Linked DNA regions of Homo sapiens: regions 1, 2, 4, 5, 6 and 7 are each linked to region 3. The links come from fine-mapping of genetic effects on gene expression. A gene starts in region 3. Each other region holds a variant in brackets. All regions are shown on one strand. Distances are from middle to middle.

Evidence for each region. PIP is the estimated chance that this variant, and not a neighbour inherited with it, causes the effect.
Region 1: its variant is fine-mapped to the expression of ZNF596 in lymphoblastoid cells (GTEx, PIP 0.98).
Region 2: its variant is fine-mapped to the expression of ZNF596 in skeletal muscle (GTEx, PIP above 0.99).
Region 4: its variant is fine-mapped to the expression of ZNF596 in pancreas (GTEx, PIP 0.96).
Region 5: its variant is fine-mapped to the expression of ZNF596 in sun-exposed skin (GTEx, PIP above 0.99).
Region 6: its variant is fine-mapped to the expression of ZNF596 in blood mononuclear cells (TOPMed, PIP above 0.99).
Region 7: its variant is fine-mapped to the expression of ZNF596 in aorta (GTEx, PIP 0.97).

What each region holds. Positions count from the first base shown.
Region 1 is chr8:209,854-213,921 of GRCh38, forward strand. It overlaps the pseudogene RPL23AP53. Among named protein-coding and RNA genes, the nearest start is that of ZNF596, 21 kb to the right of the region's middle. The variant C/T (reference allele first, on the strand shown) is at 2,076.
Region 2 is chr8:202,602-206,669 of GRCh38, forward strand. LOC124902051 (a long non-coding RNA gene) reads right to left here and starts at 2,679. Exons shown (of 2, transcript XR_007061161.1): 1 at 240-2,679; 2 at 1-146. The variant T/C (reference allele first, on the strand shown) is at 2,487.
Region 3 is chr8:230,753-234,820 of GRCh38, forward strand. It overlaps ZNF596 (zinc finger protein 596), which reads left to right and starts at 1,704. Exons shown (of 6, transcript NM_001042416.3): 1 at 1,704-1,942. It also overlaps the pseudogene RPL23AP53. RefSeq lists a silencer at 1,471-1,570 and an enhancer at 1,591-1,910.
Region 4 is chr8:322,430-326,497 of GRCh38, forward strand. No RefSeq gene overlaps it. Among named protein-coding and RNA genes, the nearest start is that of FAM87A, 59 kb to the right of the region's middle. The variant T/C (reference allele first, on the strand shown) is at 2,156.
Region 5 is chr8:964,180-968,247 of GRCh38, forward strand. The region is part of intron 2 of DLGAP2 (DLG associated protein 2); the gene reads left to right. Among named protein-coding and RNA genes, the nearest start is that of DLGAP2, 230 kb to the left of the region's middle. RefSeq lists enhancers at 773-1,972, 926-1,759. The variant G/A (reference allele first, on the strand shown) is at 2,114.
Region 6 is chr8:252,381-256,448 of GRCh38, forward strand. No RefSeq gene overlaps it. Among named protein-coding and RNA genes, the nearest start is that of ZNF596, 22 kb to the left of the region's middle. The variant T/C (reference allele first, on the strand shown) is at 1,750.
Region 7 is chr8:278,436-282,503 of GRCh38, forward strand. No RefSeq gene overlaps it. Among named protein-coding and RNA genes, the nearest start is that of ZNF596, 48 kb to the left of the region's middle. The variant C/T (reference allele first, on the strand shown) is at 2,412.

The DNA of each region.
Region 1 (4,068 bases), 21 kb before region 3:
CTTTCTTCCCTAAGGATTTAACAGAAACCAGCCCTTTCAAAGCCTCCACTACCGATATCAACCTCTCCTTTCTTGCCTGATAAGAGACCACCCACAACAGAGAGGTTCTGGCCAGCGTACAGAGGATGCACAGAGCGAGTTTTCATGTCCTCTGCTTCACCTTTTAATGTCAGAGGGCTGAAAACTCCACCCTGGGATCATGCTAACACTGCCATTTTTTGTACATGGGACCCATGAAGAAGCCAGAAACTCAATTGTGCATGCATGCATTTCTCCTTCCATAAATATTCATGACTCCTCCTGGAGCTTATTAAATAAATGTATTTGGCCATTCCAGTCAGCATAAATTGCTATTTCCTTTACCTCCTCCTTGAAGAGTCTGTTTCTGGCTTCTGGCTGGAGGCTATGCTTCCCAGCCTGTCAGAAGGACAACCCTGCAGGCTACAACCCTTTATAGGAAATAAATCTCTCACTGGTTGGGTGGCTCATGCCTGCAATCCCAGCACTTTGGGAGGCTAAGGCAAGTGGATCACCTGAGCTCATGAGTTTCAGACCAGCCTGGCCAACATGATGAAACCCTGTCTCTACTAAAACTGCAAAAAATTAGCCAGGTGTGGTGGTGGGCATCTGTAATCCCAGCTAATCAGGAGGCTGAGGCAGGAGAATCGCTTGAACCCAGGAGGTGGAGGTTGCAGTGAGCCAAGATCACGCCATTGCACTCCAGCCTGGGCAACAAGAGTGAAACTCTGTCTCAAAAAAAATAAAAATAAACATAAAAATGAAGAAATGTCTCCTTTCCAAATTTATGAACCTCATCATTCTTCCGTTGACAGCATTAAAAGGTTCAAAAAGACCTTTCCATACTCTCCCACAGAAGCCCTAGAAATTGTCATTTTGTTCATCATTCTGGATGCCTGAGAACTTGTAATCCAATGAGTAGAAAGTTTGGTACCCCATTTATGGCTGTCAACCCGCCAGTTCTCAGGAGTTTGTATAAAAGCCTAAATCCGAAAGGATCTCATCCCATTAGGACCCTTGTCTCCTTTTCTGTTGCCTTTGCCCACTGGCTCTGGCAACAGGGGTCTTTCTTTCTCCTTGGCTATCTTTGGATATGGGGGCTCCGTCTTCTGTGCCACCTTAGGGAATGCCTTTTGCAGGCATGGCTAAGTCATTAAAAAGCCTTCAGTTTCAGTAACATTTTGAGTGAGCACTCTCTGAAGCTGCGTTGGAATCTCAGGCTTCTTTGTCTGGAAGATAACTCTTGGGCTACAAGTTTCTTATCCTAGCTTTGGTTTTGAGGCCTCTCTGTTCTCCTCTTGGGTTGGAAGTTATTCCTGGCTTTTTGTTTCAAGGTGTCTCTGTGATCTTGAACTTGCTCCTTTCATGAGAACTTCTCAGTTGACTAAATTCTCCCTTCTCAAACCTCTGCTATGTGTTCCACCAATATGGAACTAATTCTATTTCCTTTCCTGTTTACATGATTTTACTAAGAATTATTTAGAAATTTAATCGCTCCTTTGAGAAAATTTTTATCTTCCAAATTGCCTCCTTTTAGACTTTTCCTTTCCCAGTTGAGTCTCTCAACTCCCTGTAATCACTGAAACTTTAGGCACCCCACTCCATGCCTTGGAGTGCTCTCCATGCTCTCAATGTGCTCAAGAATCTGCAAAAGCAAACATCTGGGGCTGAAAAATAAAATAGAAAAAATTTTATTTCTCAGCCTCCATAAGATTGTATGTCCAAACAAAAGAAAATCTTAAAAATCTCCAAAAATATTGGTGAGAAAAAAGCTTTGGCCCTCATATGAAGAAGATAAAAACTTGTTCCATTTTCCAGATACACAGTTATAATACAAATACAAAATGGGGCAAAGACAAAAACCAAGTCTTCTATATAAACTAGTGAATTTTGTATTATTGTAATAACATTAGTCAGGGTTCTCCAGAAAGGCAGAATCAATAGGATATATGTAGATAGATGAGAGAAGACTCATTAGGGGAATTGGTTCACATAATTATGGAGGCTGAGAAGTTACACAATAGCCTGTCTCCAAGTTGGAGAACCAGGAAAGCTGG[C/T]AGCATGACTCACTCCAGATATAAAGGACTCAGAATCAGGGAAGCCAATGGTGTAACTCTGATTCTGAGGCCAAAGCTCTGAGACACTGATTCTGATGTCAAGGGCAGGAGAAGAAGGATGTTTCAATTTCAGGAGATAATTCACCTTTCCTCTTCCTTGTTATTCTATCTGGGCTCTCAACCAATTGGATGGTGCCTGTATTCATCCATTTTTATACAGCTGTGAAGAAATACCTGAGTCTGAGCAATTTATAAAGAACAAAGAGGTTAAATGGGCTGACAGTTCCACGTGGCTGCAGAGGCCTCACAATCATGGCAGAAGGGGAAACAAAGACGTCCTTCTTCACATGGCAGCAACAAGAAGAAGTGCTGAGCCAAAGGGGAACAGCCCCTTATGAAACCATTGGATCATGAGAACTCACTCACTGCCATGAAAACAGAATGGCAGTAACAACCACCATGATTCAATCACCTCCCACTGGGTCCCTCCCACGACATGTACGGATTATAGGAACTACAATTCAAGATGAGATCTGGGTGGGGACACAGGCAAACCATATCAGTGCCCATCCACACTGGGTCAGGGTTATCTCAGTGTCTTCCAGAAACACCTTCACAGATATGCCCAGAAATTGTGTTTCACCAGCTACGTGTGTCTCTCAATCCAGTCAAGTAGATGTCTAAAATTAACCATCAGAATATTTATGCCTGTTTCATGGCTGAAATTGTTTGACCAGCTATGTATGTTTCTTAATCCAATCAAGTAGATGTCTAAAATTAACCATCAGAATATTTATGCCTGATTCATGGCTGAAATTTCAGGATGAAAGCTATGAAATCTCTATTTGTGTTTGTATATCTATTACTGTATGTAATGTATATGTGATATTTTCTTAACTCCGGATAGCACTGCAAAATTCATTTATAAAATCCTATAAAAGTGCTCTATTCTAACTTGGCTTGGAAAAAAATAACCATTTATAAATAAATATTCACCAAACTCCTAGAAATATAGGAACTGATCAAATGTTTTTTAAGTTAACATGATTTGGATAAAACTTACTTAAATGAGATTAATATAAAATTTTTGGTGTAATAAAACTATGTCTTCAAAGTTATCACTTGAATATAAAACAAACATAAATTCCTATTCTGCTTGAGTTCTAGTCAAATAAGCTAATATTATACTTACAGAAATGTAAAATCTTAAAGCTTATAGATTTGATTCTAATTAAGTTGTCACTCTTATGAAAAACATTATTCTTTTATGGTGAAAAGATACACATGTATTTAGAGTTAGCCAGCTGGACTCAGTTTAGATGATCCCAATTTTGTTGCAACATCCAAAGCTTCATAATCAGGAGCCAGTCGAACATATATGCCTTGTTCTCTTTATCAGGAAAAATCAGGGTGGTGACCTTGGCCACATCACTGTCATAGACCTTCTTCACAGCCTGTCTGATCTGGTGCTTGTTGGCTTTAACATCCACGAAGAACACAAGCATGTTGCTTTCTTCTATCTTCTTCCGGCCCACTCAGTGGTCAGCGGAAACTTGATAGCATAGTGGCCAAGCTTGTTTCTCCTGGGGGTGCTCTTCCGAGGATATCTGGGCTGCCTCCGAAGTCGCAGTGTCTTGGGCCGCCTGAAGGTGAGTGACATGCGGATCTTCTTTTTTGCGTGTGGCTGCGGACACCTTTCAACACTGCCTTCTTGGCCTTTAAAGCCTTCACTTTGGCTTCGGCTTTAGGAGGAGCAGGAGCTTCCTTCGCTTTCGGTGCCGTCTTGTGAAAAGCGAAAAACATTATTTCAAAAATAATTTGTTCACAGTAAATCTGCCTAATAGTAGTTTCCAAACTACTTTTGCTAATTTTTAACCTTAAACTTAAGCTAAGTAAAAGATTTGCATTAAATATCTAGACCATTTATAAATAAGATACAATACTAAAACATTAATTACTGAACATAAATAATTCAAGTTTATATACTTTTGGC
Region 2 (4,068 bases), 28 kb before region 3:
GGAATTTCTTGGGTTCCTTCAGGAATGCATCTAGCTTTGCCTCATCTTTGTTTGAACTATGGATACGGCAGAAGAAAACAGGAGGATTTCACAGATTTAAGGTACAAAAAGTCACTGGGTTCTCTAAGAAGTCTGGGATTCTTCTGCTGGAAAAATAAGTTTGTTGAGAAAAAATGAGTTGGAGGAAGCTGTTATTGAAGTGAAGCAGAATTGTTTTTACTAATCTGCTTATTACCCACTCTGTAGTGTGGAAACAAATTATTCATGCACAAGGTCCTCTTACTGTTCCTAGAATGCAGTGGAAAGAGAACAGATTAGTTTTCCTCCCTCAGAACACAATCCCTAGAAACAACCTACCTCAGATGAGATATTGCCTAATTATTTTCAAAAGACAGTGAAACATCATGGATGTAAATGTTTGCTGCAAAATAAATACATGCTAGAAACAGAAGCATCTGGGTCACAGCTATATTAGAGCTACCTGTGTTCCCCTGTCACTGACATTAAAACAAAAATGTCCAATACAATCATTCACAGCGTGGGAGAGGGGAAGTTGAAGGATGGAAAGGCCAGGCATAAAAGGATTTCAGAATTTCCGTCCATAAGGAAGTGGCTTTGTGCACTGTCTGTTACTGTGTGCAAGGTGAAATTTGAAGAATGAAAACGTGCAGTAACAAGGGCTCCTTTGTCCAACTCACCTCTCCAGATACCAAGTTTCAGACATGTTGCATTTTAATTGAAAGGTTGATATAATTTTTTTTAAAGAACACTTGCGGTGTTTGAAGTGACAAAGGCTGCTGTGACAAAAAAGCAGGGAAAGGGAATTTTTTTTTAAAAGCAAACAACAACAACAAAAACCCCACAGAAAAGCAAACAACAAACAAACAAAAAACAGAGGAAGAAGTCAAACACCCTGGGCTGTGACTACTTCCAGGAAGGGGCTACAAGAGGCAGTTGGAAATTCTATTTGTTTTGCAACTGTGGGTTTTCTGGCCCGCTTCCTTTCTAAAGTATATTACTCTGCTTTTGGTTCATGAAGTTATCCATTTCTGTTTTCTGGAACAGCTATGTATTTTCTTTATCTATCATCTATCTATCTATTTACCATCTATCTTTTCTACCTTTTGCTATCAAGAGCTTGGGTCAAGCAGGATAGAATTCCAGTGTATGTTCACTCTACCATTTAAAACAAGAGCTCTTGTAGGCATTCTCCATCACATCATAAACCTGAGCTTTCTAAAACAGGGTGTGGCAAACTACCATGCATGGACCATGTCTGACACAGTCTGCGTTTGTAAGTAAAGTTGTAATAGGACACAGCCAATACATGTGTTACATAATGTCTCTGGCTACTTTCATGGTATAATGGAAGAGCTGAGTCATTGAGAGAGAGACCATATGGCTTGGAAAACTTAAAATATTTAACATTTAGCCTCCTGCAGAAAATACTTGCTGACTCTTGTTTGAAAAGATCTCTGTTTAGAATGCTACCTATTGCGTTCTGGATAGAATCACAACTCTTTACCACAATCGACACAGCTTCAGCCCTGCTTCTATATCCAGCCTCATCTATTTCTGCTCCTCCTCCTTATTTTCCTTCTGGCCATGCTGATGGATTGTCAGCTTCCCAGATGTGTGAGAATCTCTCCTCCCTTCCTAACATTCTCATGCTCTCCCTCTGCCTCTCAAGAACTTCCTGCCCCATCTCTCATGACAAATCCTTTCTACATTCTTTAAGATGCAGCCCTTTTGCTCCTTCCTTAAGGATGTCTTGTCTGGCTCTATTTTGGGTGACGTGCTCCTTCTGCATCTCCCAGAGCCAGCCTGTGTGTGTCAGCTACAACATTTCTTTGCATCTCTGTGTCATATATTACCAAATCTGCCTAAGCTTGCATGAGTCACTGCATGACAACTTCAGACTCCACCAGCATTGTCCCCACTAACCACAAGGCTTAGACATTCGTCCAGTATGCTCGGGGTTGTGGGGTGGTAGCAGTAACCAGCTGGTGACCATCATTTCTTACATCAGAATCAAATCTGTAGATCTCTGCCATTCATAAGTATTTGGAGTTTAAAATTAGCATAAAGATTTTCCTTAAAATAAGAAGAAATGCCTTGAGTAGGCTTTTGGAACATAGGATGTTTCCACTGGTTCATTTCTGTGTTCAATATTCCCACATGAATCTAAACACGACTCTGCTCTTAGTAGCTATGTGACCCTGGGAAAGTCACTCAATCTCCCTCAGCTAAATTTTGTTGTGTGAGTAATGAGGAGAGAGTTGTGATTTGTATTTAGTGAATAATAACAAAAGGCATTTAGCTTTCTGGAACCTGGTATGTAGTAGAACCTCATGAAATACTAGCTCTGTTGATAAAACTAGACTGAAAGAAGCTTTCAAAGTCAACAACAGTTTGAGGCAGTGAAGGACGTAGAGGAGAAGCTGCTGCTGCAGGGGCCTGTAGCTCCTGGAAGCCCGTTTTGTCCA[T/C]GATTTAGCAGGAATGCATTACCCTTCCATGACGAGGCACAGCCCACAGAAACCAAGGCCATTCTTTGAAGAAAAACATGTCTTAATAGCGTTTACATTACGTAACAGTGTAATACAAATAATAATTTATTATTAGTAATAATGTGAAATTATTTACAGTACCGTAACCCTAACTCTCACCCCTAATCCTAACCCTAACCCTAACCCCTAACCCTAATCCTAACCCAAACCCTAACCCTAACCCAACCCTAACCATAACCCAACCCTAACCCTAACCCTAGCCCCTAACCCAACCCTAACCCAAACCTAACCCTAGCCCCTAAACCTAAACCTAACTCCTAACCCCTAACTCCTAACCCTAACCCTAACCCTAACCCTAACCCCTAACCCTAACCCCTAACCCCTATCCCTAACCCCTAACCCCTAACCCCAACCCCAACCCTAAACCCAACCCCAACCCCAACCCGACCCTGACCCCGACCCCTAACCCTAAACCCTAACCCCTAACCCTAACCCTACCCCTAGCCCGAACCCGAACCCGAACCCTAACCCTAACCCCTAACCCTAACCCCTAACCCTAACCCTTAACCCTAACCCTACCCCAACCCCAACCCTAACCCCTAACCCCTAACCCTCACCCTAACCCTAAACCACATGAGCAATGTGGGTATTATATTTTGGGTGTCATGTGTGCATTAGGAATGCTGCATTTGTGTTCCGACACTGCAGTTGGCCCCTGCAATGCAGCCCCTCGCCTTGACTTGGGAGAATCTCGGTGCGCAGGATTCAGAGGGGCTTTTGGTTTCCCGTTTTCCACACTGAACCGTTCTAACTGGTCTCTGACCTTGATTATTAACGGCTGCAACCGGGAAAGATTTTATTCACCGTCGATGCGGCCCCGAGTTGTCCCAAAGCCAGGCAGTGCCCCCAACGTCTGTGCTTAGGAGAATGCTGCTCCACCTTTACGGTGTCCCCCAGGTCTGTGCTAAGCAGAACGCAGCTCCGCCCTCGCGGTGCCCTCAGCCCGCCCGCCCGGGTCTGACCTGAGGAGAACTCTGCTCCGCCTTCGCAGTACCACTGAAATCTGTGCAGATGAGAACGCAGCTCCGCCCTCGCGATGCTCTCCGCGTCTGTGCTGAGGAGAACCCAACTCCGCTCTCGCAAAGGCACGGCGCGCCGGCGCTGGCGCAGAGAGGCGCGGCGCGCCGGCGCAGGAGCTGTTCGGGAGACGCGGCGCAGGGCATAGACGCACGCCTCCGCGTCCCCGGAGGGGAGGGGTCGCTGGGCGGGCGGGAGTGAGGCGCGGCGCAGGCGCAGGCGCAGAGACGCACGTCGCTGGGCTCAGGATGGCGGGGCGTGTTGCAGGTGTACAGTTGCACGCCGCCGGGCGGGGAGCGCGGGAATGGCGAGGTGCAGGCGCAGAGACACACGTCCCCGGCGGCGCAGCGCACAGACGGGTGGAACCTGAGTAATCTGAAAAGCCCGGTTCGGGTGCCCCCTGCTTGTACCCGGGCACTACAGGACCTGCTTGCCCACGGTGCTGTGCCATTGCGCCCCCTGCTGGCAACTAGGGCAACTTCAG
Region 3 (4,068 bases):
CCCAGTCTCTACCAAAAACACAAAAAATTAGCCGGGTATATTGGCACGCACCTGTAATCCCAGCTACTTGGGAGACTGAGGCAGGAGAATCCTTGAACCCAGGAAGCAGAGGTCGCAGTGAGGCGAGACCATGCCATTGTGACAGGAGAGAAACTCTGTCTCAAAAAAAAATTATATGTTTACAACAGGTGCATTTCTCCTCTTGCTTTCTGAGGACGCCCTGCTATGTAGCTGAGTAGTCACTAATAAACTATCTTAACTTCACTATACTCTGTGACTTGCCAAAAGGTCTTTCCCATGTGAAATCCAAAAACCTGTTCTTGGGGTCTAGGACAAGACCCATTTTATAATGACAAAACTATACAAATTCTAGAGGGAAACATAGAAAGAAAGCTATGTGACCTTGCGTTTGGCCATGAGTTTTAACACGACACTATCAGAGGCATTTGAACCCCTCCTCTATATGAACTCCAGGGTGGTTTATGTTCCATTGGCTAAGAGAAAGTTTTCTTCAAAAATGTGACATGATTTGAGGTCAAACATTAATATCAAGTAAACTCAAAAGATTGAGAAGCTAGCATTAGTTCTGGGAAAACCAGAAGTGTGCCTTTTTTGGAAATAATCATTGGTAGCACAAACTTAAGAATCTCCAAAGGAAATAAAAATGAGTTATTAACTTACAGTTTTCACCAATTAAGATATAAATGAAGCTAACGAAATCCGGAAATACAATTTCACTGTTTTTAATGTTCATTAAAAAAAAATCCTTATCAAATAGCCCCAGTAAGTCACCAATTAAGTCTTTACTACTTAAAAGCAAAATCCACCTATGTCCTGAACAGTATCCACTTTACGAGCCTCATTATATGTACGAGATAAAATTCAGAAATAAATAAATATACATGTATACGTATACAAATATATTTCAAATTAAAAAATACTTTTAGATAGTGGTATGTATTACATTTAGAAATTAATAACGAAGTAAATTATGGGATGTCATCCACGCCTGTCCCAAAGGTACCGAATTTATAAATCATCTCAGGTGCGGAGCAGGACAGGTTGAAAATAGGAATGACATGAACCCGCGCGGAACAGCTGCCGGCGCGGTGTCCAGGGCGGCACCCCGCCCGGTCCCGGCCCCTCCAGCCCTGGGCCCGACCCCTACTACGCCTCTGCCTCGACGCGAACGCGGAGCCCGAGCGCGCGTCACGCCGTGTGGGGCCGAAGAGGCTGCTACCCAGAGGCGGAGTGCGGGCTCGCGAGGGTCCCCACCCGACTCTCGCTCCCGCCAGCACCTACGGACTCGCGTCCCCGCCGCGCGCCGACTCGGGAGCAGCACCGCCCCCGGCACAGGAGCCTCACGCGCCTCTTACCTAACAGGAAGTTGGGTGGAAGCAGCGCGGACCCACGGCACACCGAACGCACTCCAACAGAACCCGACGCAGACACGCGCTTTCAACCGGCGGAGACACTGGCAGGGCCAGAAACGCGCGCAGCGGGGGCGGGAGGTCGGTAAGCTCCCCGCCCCTGCCCGAGACCCCGCCCCGGCCCGGCCCCGCCTTTTTCTCTGCCTCCCCTCCCTGCACGTACGGGCCCCGCCCCTCGCGCGACGTTTTTTGTTGACCCGGAAACGGATTCTCCGGAGCCGAGGTCCGCTCGGGTGAGTGCCCTCCGCTTTTTGTGGCCAAACCCAGCCACGCAGTTCCCTTCCTGCGGCGTCCTCCACACCCGGGGTCTGCTGGTCTCCGCGGATGTCACAGGCTCGGCAACCGCCCTCCTGTCGGCGGGGAGTCCCGCGACGCCCGGAAATGCTCCGAAGCCTGTCGCCCAGCTGCCAGATCTGCGTCTGTGTCCGGTTCCGTCACTGAGGTCGCCCCTGTCCGGCCCTTCCACCCTAGTTCTCTTCACCGTCCGCCCATCCTATCGCGCGCGGCCTCAGGTCCCGATTCGGCATGTGGCTTGTCTTCCATCGTCCCCACCCTCGCCCCTCTTGGCCCCTCAGGGCAGCCCTGGGATTCGGCAGACGCCAGTCCTCCCTGAGATGCTTCCCCATCCTTCCCTCCGCCAGGCCCTACGTCTCCGCAAACCCCACGCTTCGGGGTGGCCGCCTCAGACAGGACCCTGAGTCCGAGACTGGGGTAGGGGACCTGCCCGATCCTGTAACAACCCTCGTGCTTCTGCACAATCGCCTCCCACTAGCGGTGACTGTTGGGTGTTTACCTTCCCGGTGTCCCACTGAGAAGCGGGCTCTTCCTTGGCAGGGGCTTCTTCATTGCCTCGCTGTGGATGTCGAGGTGGGGCAGGAGAGTGAGGAGAAAACAGAGGAGGGAGGTAGAGCCAACGAGCGAGAAAAGGGGAGGGAAGTTTAGATGGGAAGTGGATGGGTCTGAGGAATTTGAACAAACACCGACAATGAAGGAGAGTGACCTGAGCAAGTAGTAGTGGGGTAAATGGAAATAGACAAAATGGGAATCAGCAGAGATATGGAGGACAGAATACAATGAGGAGGCCTTGACCGTCAGTAGCAGAGAGGGCAGCAGAAGCCTAATTCCCAAATTCTTTAGATGGTTTTCTGATTTCCAAATTAGTTTCCCTTTTAAATTTATTGTGTCAGGTTCAGCTTATGAGGCCTCAATACTTTTCAGTCTTAATTGTATATTGAAAATACTTTTTGTTTACTAAATGCTTTTTACATTAATTCAGTGTGCACTTCGTAAGGATAATGATGATTTGAGTTAGTTTAGTATTCAACAGCTTCCTCTATTCCTTTATATGATCTCTGTATTTAATGGCTGTGGCATAAAGTTTCCAACTAAGTTTAAGTATCAAGTTTTCTTTGTGCTGTTTTCTGCAAATATTGAAGGATGACCTGGATTGTCCTAGAACTTTGTTCCAACAGATTACATGTGTTCATAATGAATAGACTGCTCAAAGATATTTCCAAAGCTCACCTTTTATGTTTTTCAGTTCCAATAATTACATCTTTTTAAGGTTTATATTTTTTGATGACTTAATGTGATGTTCTGGAGAAGACAAATGCTTTTAATCAATATGATTAAAACCGTGAAAGACAAATCGCTGTTACTTAAGAGTGTGACATATGATCTGAAATCTTTAGGGGGCAGGGATGTTAAGGGAAAACTGCCACTATCGTATTAAGGTCATGCCATTCCTGTGAAGCTGGTGCTTGTTACTCTCTACTGGCTTCTGTTCACCTTTCCACCGGCCCCAAGACACACACATAGTGACACAAGGCAGTGGACAGGGAAAGAGCAAGACTTTATAAAGTAAGCACACAACAAAGGTATCTTTCTAATGAGGAGGAGGTGTTGGTTCTGGGAAGGAAGCTTGGGATTTGGGTATTCAGGATCCAGAAGTGAGAGAGCCTGGGAAGTTCAGGAACCAGAGAAAGAAAAAGCCTTGCCCATTCTCACCCATGACACTGTGCTCAGCAGGTACTAGCAGACTTCAGGCTCTGTGACTAAAAGGGGTCAGACCAGTTGATATACCCACAGCTGCCATGTAAGGATGTGTGTGGACTTCACTAGGGAAGAACGGTGTTATGAAAGAAGGGGCAGAAAAACTCACCTGTTGGTCTGCATGTAGAGGTTTATTGTCCTGAATTCCTGGAGGTTCAGTGAAAAGCAGAAGATTGTCTTTTACACATGTTGAGTTATGCCCCCATATATGTGGTTGTGGTAAAGAAAGAGGGTGTGTTGATGAGAGGTCCTGAAATGCATTTTCCTAATACTCAGCAGGGGCTTCTCAAGAAGGATCTTCCCTAAGAAAGAAGCTCAGAGAACAAAAATGGAAAAGGATTAGATATGGCACTTTCACTGGAAAAAGTCATGTTATTCATTGATTGTTTTGTCATCTCCCGCCTTAAGTGTTGTTTTTAGGATGTGGTAATCTCTGACCCTGCCTAACACATTTCCCAACTCACCCATAGCCTTCCCTTAACGTCCTCCCATCTTCACGCTATCACACTGTGACCCAGTGAATTCGAACTTGTGAAGTTCCATTCGGGGGATCATATGGGAAGGGCTTCACACCCAGACATAGATT
Region 4 (4,068 bases), 92 kb after region 3:
TTTTCCACTGCTTGTCCTAGATAATAATTTGATACAAATTTGTGCTCATTTGTTAATTCAAAAAAGTGTAACTACTTATATGCTGGGATAAACCAAAGAGACACAAAGTTTCATCCCTCAGGAGATTTCAGGTTAGAAGAAAAGATCATTTTTAGTCAAAGAGACCACAAACATAGGCCAGGCTTGGTGGCTCAAGCCTGTAATCCCAGCAGTTTGGGAGGCTGAGGCAGGAGGATCACTTAGAGTTTGAGACCAGCCTGGGCAACATAGTGAGACCCCGTCTCTACGAAAAATTAAGAGAAAAAAATTGACCACAAATATAAGTCAGACCACGACTATAATAGATATGGCCTAAGAGATATTCCCTGACTCAGGAAGACGCGGCAGACATGATGAGGAGACTATACTCAAGAAGACTCCCATGAAGAAGTGAAAATGGAAGCTAAATTCTGAAGGATAAGCCAGCATTAGCAAGGCCAAGAAGATCCCTCAGGAGCTGACCCTGTGACAAGGATTGGAGTGCAGGCTGTTTATTTCCAGGAGAGAGGAAGATGGCCAACAAAGGGTACGCTTAAAACCAGTCACCACTGTGGGCAGCTGCAGCCTTCTGCCACTGTCAGACTCTGGGAGCCAATGCAAACAACAAAAGCAAAAACAAACACCCAAAAGAATGCACCTGAGATGTATTCACCCCAGAGGGCGAGGAGCCGGATAGATGTCCGTAACCAAGGTCTCCTGAGGGCTGTGCCCTGACGCATTTATTCCCTGGAACTTTTGCCTGTGGATGGAGCCGGTGGCAGCAGATTGGGTTTTAGCTGCGGGACAAAGACCTTGGACAAGGAACTGGGGCACTGGCCCCTGGGAGCTGGCTGGGGGGGCACTGCAGTGCCACGTGTAGAGAATATGGGCAAGGCCCCAGCAGTGGACATTATGGAGGTACTCCAGGCAGAGGGAGTATCACCAGCAAAGGCCCCGTGGCAAGGCAAGACCACAACCAGGGTCCAAGAGAAGTGGGCAACAGCAGAGCTACGTGGAGCCAGGGACTTATTGGACACAGGCCCCTCATTTCCTGGCACGTGAGATGGTGTCCTTGGTTATCCTGCCCTAGAACATGCTTAAAGGTGTCCTATAGTCACTTAAGAATTCAGCCAATACTGTAGTGCCTGTGAGTATCAGATGTTTCATTATTTAATCTTCAAGTATTCTTGTATGTATTCATTTCATTAGTAAGAAAAATAGTGGTCAAAAGGTGAGAGGAATTGCCCATATCACACAGCTTATAGAGCTGCAACCACCATAACTGAAGCATCAAAAGGAAAGGAAATCGTGAACAAAAGTCCACGATGCCTCCAGCACACGCACAGGGTCTTTAATTCACACCTTCCCCATGGATTGGGCTGAAAGGATAAGCTCCAAATTTGCAGCATATTAGTGTATTTTTTCATTAAAGATGATTCAGTACTTGCAAGGGTCATTTCAGCAGCTGCAGGCCAAAGGATAGAAGTCTCTTGTCCCTTCCTAAGGATAAGAGGAGCACGGTCATGTGGATCCCTGCACCCTGACTCAGTTTGAGGAATGCATTCTTCATTCTGTGCCAGGCTTTCTAATTAAGGAACAGCTCAGATGCCACCTCCTGCACGGCAGTCACCCTTGACTGTCCCAGGCTGGGTCAGGTGCCCCGGCTCTCTCTATGCTTCCCCAGCACTCTGCATTGGGCTCTTTTTTACCCTTCATCAGGCTGCATGGGACATAGCCTGATCCCGGATCCTGGCTGTGAAGTAAGCCGCGTGGCTTCGGCGGCACACCATCGTGGCCGTGGGCTGGCTGAGCGCTCAGCTCCTCAGCACCTTGGAGACACCTTGGCCCTGCTCGTGGTCCTGCTGTGGGGCACTGGTCAGGTGAGGGTGGGGGTTCTGCAGTGATTAAAATACTCCATTACCTGGGTATGCAATCCGTTCAGATATTGGCAGGTGATCCAAGTCAGGCCAAATAAAATTTGCCCTGAGAGTTTATGAACACTGAGAGATAAATTATGAGTCTTTCTCTAGGGATCTTGCTACAAGGAATAAATGGATGCCGCTTTCAGGAAGCCTTATGAAATAGAGAATAGTGAGAACAAAATACAAAGAGAAGCAGAGACAAGAAGACAGAGAAG[T/C]GGACGGAAAGATGCAGGGATGGATGAATGGGTGGGTGAACAGGGGGTGGAGGGATGGGGGAGGGAGGAAAGGAGAGATGAAAGGATGGATGTGCATGTGGATCAATGGATAAAGACACGGGTGAGTGAGTAGGTGGGTGGAGGGGTGGATGGAGGGAGGGAGGGTTGGATAGATGGGTGGATGGATAGGTGGATGAACAGCAAAGAAACAGTTTCTCACAAAATTATTTAAACTCGTATATCTAGTTATGACTTCAGCTAGAATCTTTCACTAGATTTTTATGATGTGAGCCAATAAATCCCCTTTGGATTCAGCTAGATTTGCTAGGTTGCTTGCTACCAAAAAATTTAAAATTTGCATAATATATGCTCCTCTCTCTCTTGAATTCCCTGCTTTGCCCACTCGGCTCGTATCTGGAACCGTCTCCCTCACTGCTGGCTATCTCTAATCCCCTCCTTTTCCTTGGCCCTCATGCTCTTAACCACGCCTTCTTTCCTGTAGGAACTGTGCTTCTATAGGAAACCGTCATTCCACTCGCTTGAGACTATGCTGGGGAACAACAGCAGTTCCAAACTTGCCCACAGCCCAAGAGCGACGTGCACGGAAGCAGGAACATCCTGCACCTTCATCACAAGGACTGACTAATGGTGGTTCCCTTTAGCTACAGATGACTCCATCCTTCCCACTCTCGCCCTTTGGATGACAGTCTTCCCCCTGATCTCCACACCCAGCTCCCTCACTCCCAGCTCCACACTTGCTTCCTGGTTGGTCCTGGTGGGCCATGGTGGGTCTATGGGACTCAGCAGGCACCTGTGCTGATGGTTTCTGGGTTCCTGGATGTTTGCTGCTGGTGCCGCTTCTCATCTTTCTCTTGAACATTTCCAACTGCACCACGATCCCACTGAGACACCTCTCAGGGAACTCATTGTGTGGAAAACTGAATGCTTCTCCTCCTGCATCCCATAATGCAGACAGTGGCTTCTCCACCCTCCCAGGCCCCAGCCCCCCAGCCCAGAAACCCCTCAGTCCTTTGTCTCCTCTCCTAAATCAACAAGCCCTGTTGGCTCTTGCCAGTGAAGTTCCTCTCACTCTTTGGCCTGCCTGTCACTGTCCAGTCCTTGTTAATTCTTGCCAGATTTCCTGTGACCATCTCTTAGCTCCAGGCATCATCTTGCCTCCAGCCTCACCCCCACACAGCAGGGACCTGTCTCCTGCAAGCCTCACTGTCACCGCATCCTGGACGTACATGAGGGTCTGTGTCTTTCACAGCGAAGTCCAGACCTCCTGATGGTGAGCACAGCCCTTCGTGATCTGCCCCCGACACTCAGCCGTCTCATTCTCAGCTCCTCACACACATCTCACCAGAGCCATATGCCTTGCATCTTGGATATTATTTTCAGGAAATTGCCCCAAACCAAGCAGTGGGACCAGGGACAGTCGGCGACTTCTCTGGACCTGTCTTTCCTTATCGATAAGATGAAAGGCTTAGACAAGGCCACCTCTATGGAGCCCGGCCACTTTGCCCCACTGGGTTTCCTTTTGATATACTTAATGACACTAAAAAACCTATTTAAAGGTACCAATTCTGGGAGAGGGAAAGAAACAGCAAAATGCAAATTCTACCAGTTCACCAAACCCAACTTAAATCTTCTTCAGGAGCACAATGCAGCTGCCGCCCACCCAGGCCTTCCAGGAGCCCGCAATGAAGTTAATTATTAGACCTGAGGGCATTTGAGTGGAGTGGGACTCCCAGCACACTGAGGAAGCAAGAAAAACCTGAAGTAAAAAGAGAGCTAAGCTAAGACACCTGATAGATGTTAAGTCAGGAACAATCCCCTGGAAAGTAAGTTAGGAATGTAGGAAATTTTTCCAAGTTGCTCACTTAAATCATTTCCAAAGTGGTTTGACTTTT
Region 5 (4,068 bases), 730 kb after region 3:
AAATTTTTGAACCTATCTGACGTCTTCAGGGATTCACCTTAATTTGAAGCATGATAGTCCTGTGTCTAGGTGGACTCTCTGTTTATAAACCAGTAATGAAAAAGTGCTTCACAGAGGGCTATTCCCGCATGTTTTTATGCACGCAGCCCTGGTGGCGCTGTACTGTCGTGGACTCTGCTGCGACGCAGTTGTCACTTGCTGTCCTGCGTTGAAGACCTTTCTGTGTAGACACACAATTCTCCCACAGAGCAGAGTCGCAGAGGACCCAGCCTTTTATTCAAAGCCTATCGTAAGTCAAGAACAATTATTTCTAACATGCTGTGCCTATCTCCAGGTTCAGCTGTTTATTTGAAACGTAAACAGAGTCCTTGGGAAATGTTGCTGGTATCTGCCGTGTTCCCCACGCGGGAAGCCAGAGAGCGTGGCAAGTGTCTGTCCCATCCTGGGGCCTCGGCCTCCTAATGTTCCTCACCAAGGCCTGGTCCTTCTTCAGGGGTCCCAGTGTGGCTTCTGCCCACACCCAAGGGGCCCAGGCCTTTGGACATTTGCTCTCAAGGGTGGGCACCGCCTCCACCTACCCTCCCCCGAGGGCCACACTTCTTGCTGCTCTGTGCAGATTCTACTGGAAGCCCTTCCAGCGCTGCCAGGCTCGGATCCTGGTGGCCTTGCGATGGCCTTTGGCTCCGCCTGTGGCCATGCTCCGGGGGGTACTGCCTTCCCGCTCGCTGAGCCCGACTTCCACGTTCACACGGCACTGTCGCCACCGCACACACGGCTCCTGAGCCCAACCCCCGCGTGCACACGGCACTGTTCACCTCACATGGCTCCTGAGTCTGACCCCTGCGCTGCACATGGCACTGTTCACCACACAGAGCTCCTGAGTCTGACCCCGCACTGCACACGGCAGTGTTCATCACACACGCGGCTCCAGAGCCCGACCCCCGCATGCACACGGCGCTGTTCACCTCACAGGGCTCCTGAGTCTGACCCCTGCGCTGCACACGGCACTGTTCACCACACAGGGCTCCTGAGTCTGACCCCGCACTGCACACGGCACTGTTCACCTCACACGGCTCCTGAGCCCAACCCCCGCGTGCACACGGCACTGTTCACCACACAGGGCTCCTGAGTCTGACCCCTGCGCTGCACACGGCACTGTTCACCACACAGGGCTCCTGAGTCTGACCCCTGCGCTGTACACGGCACTGTTCATCACACACGCGGCTCCAGAGCCCGACCCCCGCATGCACACAGCGCTGTTCACCACACAGGGCTCCTGAGTCTGACCCCGCACTGCACACGGCACTGTTCACCACACAGGGCTCCTGAGTCTGACCCCTGCGCTGCACACGGCACTGTTCACCACACAGGGCTCCTGAGCCCAACCCCCGCGTGCACACGGCACTGTTCACCTCACACGGCTCCTGAGTCTGGCCCCGCACTGCACACGGCACTGTTCACCACACAGGGCTCCTGAGTCTGACCCCGCACTGCACACGGCACTGTTCACCTCACACGGCTCCTGAGCCCAACCCCCGCGTGCACACGGCACTGTTCACCTCACACGGCTCCTGAGTCTGACCCCTGCGCTGCACACGGCACTGTTCACCACACAGGGCTCCTGAGTCTGACCCCTGCGCTGTACACGGCACTGTTCATCACACACGCGGCTCCAGAGCCCGACCCCCGCATGCACACAGCGCTGTTCACCACCGCATGTGGCTCCTGAGCCTGAGGAGGAGCGTGGTGGCAAGGACAGCTACCATGAGTCTGCAAGCAGCCAGGTACCCTTCTCCTGGGCTGGAGCCAGTGTAGAGGACGGGGACTCTCAGCTCTGCCGTGACCCCCGTGGTCTCCCAAGGACAAGCGCCATTCTTGAGGGACGATCACAGCTTCTCGCCAGACTCCCTGATGAGGTCAGTCACGCGCTGAGACCAGAGCAGGGGCATCATCCTCGTTTCTTGCACAGTAAACGCAGCTGTAACATCTGGACCAGTGGAGCCAGTTGTGGGAATCCATAGGAATTTGAGTTTCAGCGATTGTTCCAGGCAGCGTTTTCCCAGGAAGTGTTTACCAGTTGTCCACGTTGGGGTATGAATGAGTGAAGCTTCAT[G/A]AATGTAACTTTGAACACTTGATCAGAAAGAGAAAACGGATGACATGTTTCTGATAAATCATGACTAAGATGATTTTTTAAAATATCATTTAAAAAGATAAGTATCGAGGAAGCTTCCATTTCAAACCAACTCCGCAGGAAAGTTTTAGGGTGAATCAAACATCTTTTTCTGTAGTTGAGTTAGTAACTCTAAATATATCCATTTGGTCTTTGAGAATGCTTTCATATCTTTTTTTTAAAAGTTTTTAATTTTCAAACTTTTTAAAAAATGACAATGGATGAATAAGTATTTTTGGTAATGATTAGTTTATGCTATGCACACTGCTTTGTAACCTTCTTTTTCCCTCTAACAAAATGTGATGGGTGTTATCTTTTATCCTCTTTCACGGTTTTTGCTACTGGTGGAGTCTTTTACATCTGGGTTTATTCAAACACATAGAAGCAAATGGACTGAGAGTGAGCATCTGCCTCTCCTCACATTTCCTACGCTAGAAATGACTGTTGTTAGGATGGTCAACCTTCTTCCAGCTTTATTTCCACGCCTGTAAAATAAATGTGTCTGTATGTAAAATATACTTCTTTTTCTCACAAATTGATCCTGAGCTTATTTTGTGCTTCACTGTGCCTTTTGTCACTTGACATACATCAGATAAATCTACTGGCCATTGATGTGTCTCTTGCATTTGAGTGGCTGCGTGACATTGCAAATATGGATGCTCCATCACATGTGTCATGTGGACATTTGGGTTACTTTTCTTTTAAATGAATGCTGAAATAAACTTCTTTGTGTATTTACCTTTCTTGATTATACAGATGTCTTTCCAGCACAGGCTCCTTGGAGAGGTGGCTGGGCCATCGCTGACATTCGTGCTTTCACTGCCTGTGTCATGTGCTCATACACTGTACACGTTTAAACACTTCCTTACTGATGGACAGTGAGATTCTTTCCCCATGTTAGTTTTTCCTAAAGTTTGTTCTAGTTTGAAGAAAATGGGAATGAGCCCAGCTTAAGCGCATATCCCTTTCGAACATGAAGGTTCAGATAAGGCATGAACTTGAGAATTCTGTGCCGCTTAGGCTTTGGGTGCCTGTGGTTTTGAGAGTGAGTAGATTATTCTTACTCATTTGATTCTAAGAAAAAGTAGCTGTTGCTGAGGCTTAAGATGCCCTTAATTGTTTGGATGCCTTCATGAATTTCAGATTTATTCGTGTTCAATAGTTGTATGGAAAGATAAGGATGTGAAACCTAGAATTCAATTCAGAGCAAGAGGAAAAGTTCAAAATTTTGACATGCATGGCTATTTCAACATTTCAATGCACAATTTGACTTAAATTGTGGATTTTTTTCTTGGATGGGTTGTGGATTTCTGAGAAATGTACAAATACCTATGTACATTTATTGCTGAAAGAGGTTTGTTTTACTACTGTATAAAATCTTAAAGGATCCCAAAAGTGGTGTTCAACAAAGAGGTGTATATATATATATGTATATATATATATATACACCTCTTTGTTGAACACCACTATATATATATATATATATATATATATATATATATATATATATATATATATATATATAAATACTTTAAACTCCCTAGAACTGAAAGTATAACAAACAGGTGTTTTCTTCATGATGACTATGATGTTGTTTTTCTTTACGTCAGTATCTTCACTGTATTTAGTCTGTAGCTTCTCTCCTGATACACAAATGCACTCACACACGTGCTCATTTGCCCTCATGCTGACACAGATGCACACACATTGTTATTCACCTGTCTTCCCAATTTTTCTTTCCTTTTGTGTTCCCTCAGTTTTGAATTTTAATTTGGTGACTTCAGGCAGAGTCTGATTTGTGACTTCTGTTTATGTTGTAACTTGGGAATATCTGACTTTTACTGAATACAAGCCACATGTGGGCAGTAAAAGGAAGATGATTATGACAGCTATGCCCG
Region 6 (4,068 bases), 22 kb after region 3:
ACACAACAAATCTAACTGTATGATATCATTATAATGTAAAGAACCGTGTCTAGAATAAATATGTTGGTTTATCAATTTTTATTGAATCCAAACATTATTGCAATAGTAAACAAGGTTTTTCTTTTTCAACCTGTCTAATAATTTGAAGCTACTCCAATGGCCTAAATGACACCCGAGTGGCGAGTCTTTTTGAATGCTTACTGTTGTCCCCATGTCTAGTAAGGCTCACTACAAGGGGTTTTAGTTAGCCTAAGTTTAGCAAATGCATACTTACTTTTCCCTTTTCATTTCCCACTTTCTATAGTTGCCAAGGTGTTACAAAAGTAGATTAGGAAAACCTAGCCAATACCAATCAGGACATAGGCGTGGGCAAAGACTTCATGACTAAAACATTGTAGGGAAAAGAAATAGAGATCAGACTATTACTGTGTCTATGTAGAAAGGCAAGACATAAGAAATTCAATTTGGACCCGTACCTTAAACAATTGCTTTGCTGAAATGTTGTTAATTTGTAACTTTGCCCCAGCCAATTTGACCCAACTTTGAGCTCACAAAAACATGTGTTGTATAGAATCAAGGTTTAAGAGATCTAGGGCTGTGCAGGATGTGCCTTGATAACAAAATGTTTACAAACAGTATGCTTGGTAAAAGTCACTGCCATGCTCTAGTCTCAATAAACCAGGGGTACAATGCACTGCGAAAAGCTGCAGGGACCTCTGCCCTGAAAAGCTGGGTATTGTCCAAGGTTTCTCCCCATGTGATAGTCTGAAATGTGGCCTCGTGAGATGAGAAAGACCTGACCGTCCCCCAGCCCGACACCTGTAAAGCGTCTGTGCTGAGGTGGATTAGTAAAAGAGGAAAGCCTCTTGCAGTTGAGATAGAGGAAGGCCACTGTCTCCTGCCTGCCCCTGAGAACTGAATGTCTCAGTATAAAACCCGACTGTACATTTGTTCAATTCTGAGATAGGAGAAAACCCCCCCCTATGGTGGGAGGCGAGACATGTTTGCAGTAATGCTGTCTTGTTATTCTTTACTCCACTGAGATGTTTGGGTGGAGAGAAACATAAATCTGGCCCACGTGTACATCCAGGCATATACCTCCCCTTGAACTGAATTATGACATAGATTCTTTTGCTCACATGTTTTTTGCTGACCTTCTCCTTATTATCACCCTGCTCTCCTGCCACATTCCTTTTGCTGAGATAATGAAAATAATAATCAATAAAAACTGAGGGAACTCAGAGACCGGTGCCAGTGCAGGTCCTCTGTATGCTGAGTGCCGGTCTCTTGGGCCCACTGTTGTTTCTCTATACTTTGTCTCTGTGCCTTATTTCTTTTCTCAATCTCTCATCCCACCTGGTGAGATATACCCACAGGTGTGGAGGGGAAGGCCACCCCTTCAAACATCAAAAGCAATGGCAACAAAAGCCAAAATAGACAATTGGGATCTAATTAAACTAAAGAGCTCCTGTACAGCAAAAGAAACTACCATCAGAGTGAACAGGCAACCTAGAGAATGGGAGAAAATATTTGCAATCTACCCTATCCGACAAAGGACTAATATCCAGAATCAACAAAGAACTTAAACAAATTTACAAGAAAAAAAACAACCCCATCAAAAAGTGGGCAAAGAATATGAACAGACATTTCTAAAAAGAAGACATTTATGCAGCCAACAGTCACATGAAAAAAATGCTCATCATCACTGGTCATCAGAGAAATGCAAGTCAAAACCACAATGAGATACCA[T/C]CTCACACCAGTTAGAATGGTGATCATTAAAAAGTCAGGAAACAACAGATGCTGGAGAGGATGTGGAGAAATAGGAAGGCTTTTACACTGTCAGTGGGAGTGTAAATTAGTTCAATCATTGTGGAAGACAGTGTGGCAATTCCTCAAGGATCTAAAACACGAAATACCATTTGACCCAGTGATCCCATTACTGGGTATATACCCAAAGGATTATAAATCATGCTACTATAAAGACACATGCACACATATGTTTATTGTGGCACTATTCACAATAGCAAAGACTTGGAACCAACCCAAATGTCCATCAGTGACAGACTGAATTAAGAAAATGTGGCACATATACACCATGGAATACTATGCAGCCATAAAAAAGGATGAGTCCATGTCCTTTGCAGGGACATGGATGAAGCTGGAAACCATCATTCTAAGCAAACTATCACAAAGACAGAAAACAAAACACCAAATGTTCTCACTCATAGGTGGGAGTTGAACAACGAGAACACATGGACACAGGGTGGGGAACATCACACACACACTGGGGACTGACAAGGGTGGGGGCTGGGAGAGGGATAGCATTAGGAGAAACACCTCATGTAAATGACAAGTTGATGGGTGCAGCAAACCAACATGGCACGTGTATACCTGTGTAAAAACCTGCAGGTTGTGCACGTGTACCCTAGAACTTAAAGCATAATTTTTAAAAAGTGGATTATGAGCTTCAAATGGGCAGTTGGATTTTGAACCTAAATGCCACAGACAGCAACGGTTGGTAGAGAGGTGGGCTCAAAAATGGAAGGGAGGGACTGTGGAAGGGAGAAATGGAAGAGGTAAACAGTGCTGCCCAAGGGGAGACCTCAGAGGCCCTGACCTGCTGGGTAACCTATCCCGTAGCAGAGACACTGAAAAAAATATTCACGTGGCCAATTGCCTACCACTGTAGGTGGCTCTCCATTATGCCAGGGGCCTGGGAATTCCCATTTCCTTGGACCAAGAGTGGCTTGAGCAAGCTAGTTGGAAGACAGCATAAAGGAAGGGTTAGCAGCTTGCTATTAGGAAAATACTTCTAACTTATAGGGCAGAAAAGGGCAAGACCAATACTCCCCTAGGGAGAGGGCTATAACTCATATATCCCTCAGAATCCTAGAGGGAATGTCAACACAAATACTCCAGATCATATGGGGGGTGGCCAGAATACCAATGTTGAAAACTCAGAAGGCCCAAGTTTCAGCCAACAAGGGTCCCTTCACCAAATCCTGAAAACCCTGGGGCACCCAGAATGCGGCCAACAGTCAATCCAAGACCAAATTGGGGTCAGCAAACAACATGACTCTAGCATCCCGAAGTAAAAACAGTGGGGATCTCTCACAACCAAGTATCCTGCCTTAATCGTCCCCAAACAATTAACAGAAAGGTAAAACCAAACATAAGACTGCACACATTTTAGGACTGAAAATAAAATAACTAATGGAACAACACAATGGAGTCCGAAGAGAAAGTACTCAGGGAAGGGGTGACAAGGACATGCTCTAGCCAAAGACGTTTATTTCATTTCCTAGTTCTCCTGATACTATGGCGATGGGGGCATAAGGGACACTCACCTGTCCACCAGAGCACATATGGTGCTGACTGATTTTCCCCATGGGACCCAGGTGAAGATCTCGCCAGGATACCTCAGCTTGGGTGGACTTAACTGCCACAAAGGGTGGGTCCTGCACAGGGGGGGCCTGTAACCCACTGGTCGGCCAGTCAGACAGGTGGGTGTCACATAAGGTGGTGACACTATGGCTGCCCTGCCAGTAGGCTCAGCTGCCGCAGTGGGAGGGGCCTGCACTGTGTCAGTAACCCACCAGGCTGCAAATTTTCTGAACTTTTATACTGTGCTTCCCTTATAAAATTGAATGCCTTTAACACCACCCAAGTCACATCTTGAATGATATACTGCTCAGAAATTTCTTCTGCCAGATACCCTAAATCATCCCTCTCAAGTTCAAAGTTCCACATATCTCTAGGGCGGGGGCAAAATACTGGCAGTCTCTTTGATAAAACATAACAAAAGCCACCTTTGCTCCAGTTCCCAACAAGTTCCTCATCTCCATCTGAGACCACCTCAGCCTGGATTTCATTGTCCATATCATTATCCGCATTTTGGTTAAAGCCATTCATCAAGTCTCTAGGAAGTTCCAAACTTTCTCATATTTTCTTGTCTTCTTCTGAGCCCTCCAAACTGTTAGAACCTCTGCCTGTTACCGAGTTCCAAAGTCGCTTCCACATTTTCGGCTATTTTTTCAGCACCATCCCACTCTACTGGTACCAATTTAT
Region 7 (4,068 bases), 48 kb after region 3:
GCCTTTGGAGGTAAGTTCGGCGGTCTCTGATAAGTCTGTTCCTTCAGGTGTGGTGTGCTGTTGCAGGCACAGCTGGGACACGCTTGGTTCAGGCCTGGAACCACGCATTTCTCCAGAAGCCACAGGTCATTTGCTGAGAGAGGCCATGAGTGACCACAGTCTACTCACGAGGTGTTCACTGATCTGGACTTCATGCCTGTTTTTAGTTTTTTTTCTAGCTAGAGCTAGTCATTTCATACTGGGTGATTCAAATTCAGGAATACAGTGTTTCGAGTTAACCTCGTCGATTGCACAACGATTGCCTTTCAATCATATCAAAAATTTTGATTCTCAATGATGCGAAAGTAAAATACTCACTTAAACTACCCACCATGTAAGTGCCCACCTTGCCTCCAGGTGGTCTAACTTAACGTTTGTTTGTTTTTTTTAACTTGTTTGCTTTCATCATTATTGTTATAGTTGTTAACATAGTGATTTCTTTTTAATATTCAGGAAAATCTATATTTTCCTGACTTGCTTTTATCGTGGGGGGGGATTTGAAAATGCTCGTGTAGATTTTCCCGTGGTTGTTATCTGCTTTCCTGAGCGTGCAAGACAGGGCAGGAGGCTGGGATAGCTTCCTGAGTGCCACAGCTCCGGAGTTTCTGCTGTTTCCACAGGGACAACTTGGCCTTGTGCGTTCAGAAACCAGCCTTCCCCCGCTCCCCAGTCTGGCGTGGTGTTTCCTTCCTTTGCTGTGTTGTGCTTGTCCTGCTCCTGCTCGACTTGGATCTGAGTGTGTTCCTGGCAGTTTTTCTGCAGGGCAGGGATGTGCTCAGTACAGGAGTTTGTAGGAAGCAGATGGCTCCGTGACTGGGATCCTATTCCATTCATGCTCCCTTTGGCAAAGCTACAAATTATGTCCTTCAGGAGCTCCTGGGCCAGACCCTGTGCTCATACCTCACTTCCCCGTGAATTCCTTTTGGCATCTTGAGGTGCTTCTGTTTGTGGGGCCATCAGAAGCATACTTCCCTTCCCAGCTTTCTTCGACACAGAGCTTTGAGCCGTACTGTTTGTCTCTGCCCTGCCATATGTGGGGTTCATGAGGGTACTTTGTCCCAGGTTCTGTTGAAGGTATTTCAATGGGTCCTTAGTTTTGCTATAAAATCTAGTCTGTGTATGTTTCTGGGAGAATCTGGGGAAATGCGCAAGCAACAGAACATTGCTACCACCTTCCCAGAATTCCTCTTAAATGTGCTTTTAATTCTCTGAGGAAACTCAGAACAGGGTTAATTGTAGAAAAGATCAGATGCATGTTATGTTTAGCTCTACAAAACTCTGCGAAGTATAGATTCTCATGCATTCAAAGGAAAATAATACATCGTCGTAAATTGTGTCCAATATAGTCATTCCTCCAACTCAAATTCGGTGTGACTTTCTGGTACCCAGAACTCTCCAGAAATCTCGTCTTCTCCAAAAGTTCTTGACTGTACTGTACTTTTGATATTATTTTGCCACTAACATTATGAAATAACTCTTCTAACCACAAAGCAAGTATGTTCACTATGCCTCCTCCCTCACAGGAGTGCTGTGCATGGTATCGGCCATGGAACCCTGAGAGCAGGGACGCTGGAGAGCAGCTCAGAAGAGGCAAGACATGGGTGCTGGGTTAGTTCCTGCAGCTGCTGTAAAAAGTCGCTACACACTCATAGTTTAAACAATTTAGTGTTCTTACAGTTCTGGAGGCCAAAAGTCCTGAAATCAAGGTGTGAGCAGCACTGCGTTCCTCTGGAGGCTCTGGGGGAAAATCTGTTCCCAGCCTTTTCCAGCTTCCAGAGGGGCCCGTCTTTCTGGGCTCGTGCCCTTCCTCCATCCTCAAGGCCCACAGGGCAGCACCTTCAGTGACCAACTGTGACTTCTGCTTGCCTCCCCACACCTTTCTCCTGCCTCCTCCTGTATGGACCCGTGTGACAAACCCAGATAACCCGATAATCTCCATCTCAAGATCCTTAACTTAGTCATATCTGCAAAGCCCATTTTCCAAGTGAGATAGCGTATTCACAGATCCTGGGGATTAGGATGTAGGGGGCCATTAGGGACCTTTGGGGCCATTATTCTGTGCACCAGTATTCTAGGAAAAACGAACAAGATTAGGGCACTGTTCTGACAGGTGAAGCCAAGACGAAAGGTTTCTGAACACCATCATGATGAACAGCATAAGAAGGAGGAACAAGGTTGCTCCTGAGGCCCTTTCAGCCATGCACTCACCCCCACTCCCCAGCCTTGCATCTTCAGGGTGCACCCAGGCTCCTCAGTGAGCTGCAGCGTCAGTAGAGTGGCCCTGGCCCGAGGATTCCTCAGCCAAGGAAAGCAGGTGAATAAATGAATCATTGTAATTTTATATTGAAAATCTATAACAGTTACACACAATG[C/T]GGCTAGGAAGTGCCAGAGAGGAAAAGACAAACCCTGCCTGGGGAAGTGGGTAATGCTGAAATAAGTTTTGATGCATGCTCAGTGTAGAAAAGAAGACAAGAATTCTAGGGTAAAGCAATCCTGTTAAACACACAAGGACAAATGGGAGAACATGATTTTTGAGAGATCTGTGAGCAGCTGGGTGTGGCTAAAACCTAAAGGGTCCTGACTGTAGATGAGGAGAAGAAAGAAGACGGAGAAGGAAAATGGATTCTGATGTGAATGTCTCTGTAGGAGGCCGTACGGGGGTTCGGTCTTCTCCTGCAGACAATGCAGAGACCTTGGACATTCATAATCAGAGCTATTTTGGAAAGATCTCCCTCAGAATACTCTGACAAGCATTGTCCGTATCACGGCCTTCTGTGCACATGTGTTTCTTCCTATACTGATTTGTAAACTCGTTGCAAGTCATGGCTGCATTTGTCTTAGTTTTCCTTCCCTGTAACTTAAGTTTTCAAAAAAATTTTTATAGTTAAATTAGGTTGGACTGAATTGAGACCACAAAATTCTATGAAATGATGGAACTTTTATGTAACAGGCATATTTATATTAAAGATATATTTAAGACAAATAAAATACTAATTTACATGTTCTATTGTGGAATTTAAATAAGCATGTATTCATTCTAATACCTCATATGCACATGCTTTTTAGAACACCATACTCAGGCATTCAAAAACAACCTGAATTTGAAGGTGTGTTCTCATGTGAGGGTTAATTTTATGTGTCAACTTAACTGGGCCATGAGATGCCCAGATAGCCGTTAAAACATGATTTCTGGGTGTGTCTGTGAGGGTGTTTCTGGAAGAGATGAGCATTTGAATCAGTGGACTGAGTGAAGATCATGGGCTGGCCTCATCCAATCCTCTGCAGGCCTGAATAGAGCAAAAGGTGGAGGAAGGTTGAATTCCCTCTCTGCCTGATGGTGGGGCTGGAACGCCAGTCTTCTCTTGCCCTTGGCTTTCTGGCTCTTTGGCCTTTGAACGAAGCCACTGGCTTTCCCGGATCTCTGCCTTGCAGATGACAGGCTGTGGGACATTGCAGCTTTCACGATCACGTGAACCAACACCTCACAGGAAATCTCACTGGAGCTCTTTCTCCAGTCTTCAGACAGAAGGTTCTCTGTTAGGCACAAGAACAAGCTGTCCCAGCCTTGCTGTTTGTGCTGGAAAGGGCCTTATTGGAGACGCTCCACGTTGCAGAATCCACACTCCACGTTACAGAATCCACACTCCACGTTACAGAGTCCACACTCCACGTTACAGAGTCCACACTCCACGTCAGAGTCCACACTCCACGTTACAGAGTCCACACTCCACGTTACAGAAACCACACTCCACGTTACAGAGTCCACACTCCACGTTAGAGTCCACACTCCACGTTACAGAGTCCACACTCCACGTTACAGAATCCACACTCCACGTTACAGAGTCCACACTCCACGTTACAGAGTCCACACTCCACGTTACAGATTCCACACTCCACGTTAGAGTCCACACTCCACGTTAGAGTCCACACTCCACGTTACAGAGTCCACACTCCACGTTACAGAGTCCACACTCCACGTTAGAGTCCACACTCCACGTTACAGAGTCCACACTCCACGTTAGAGTCCAC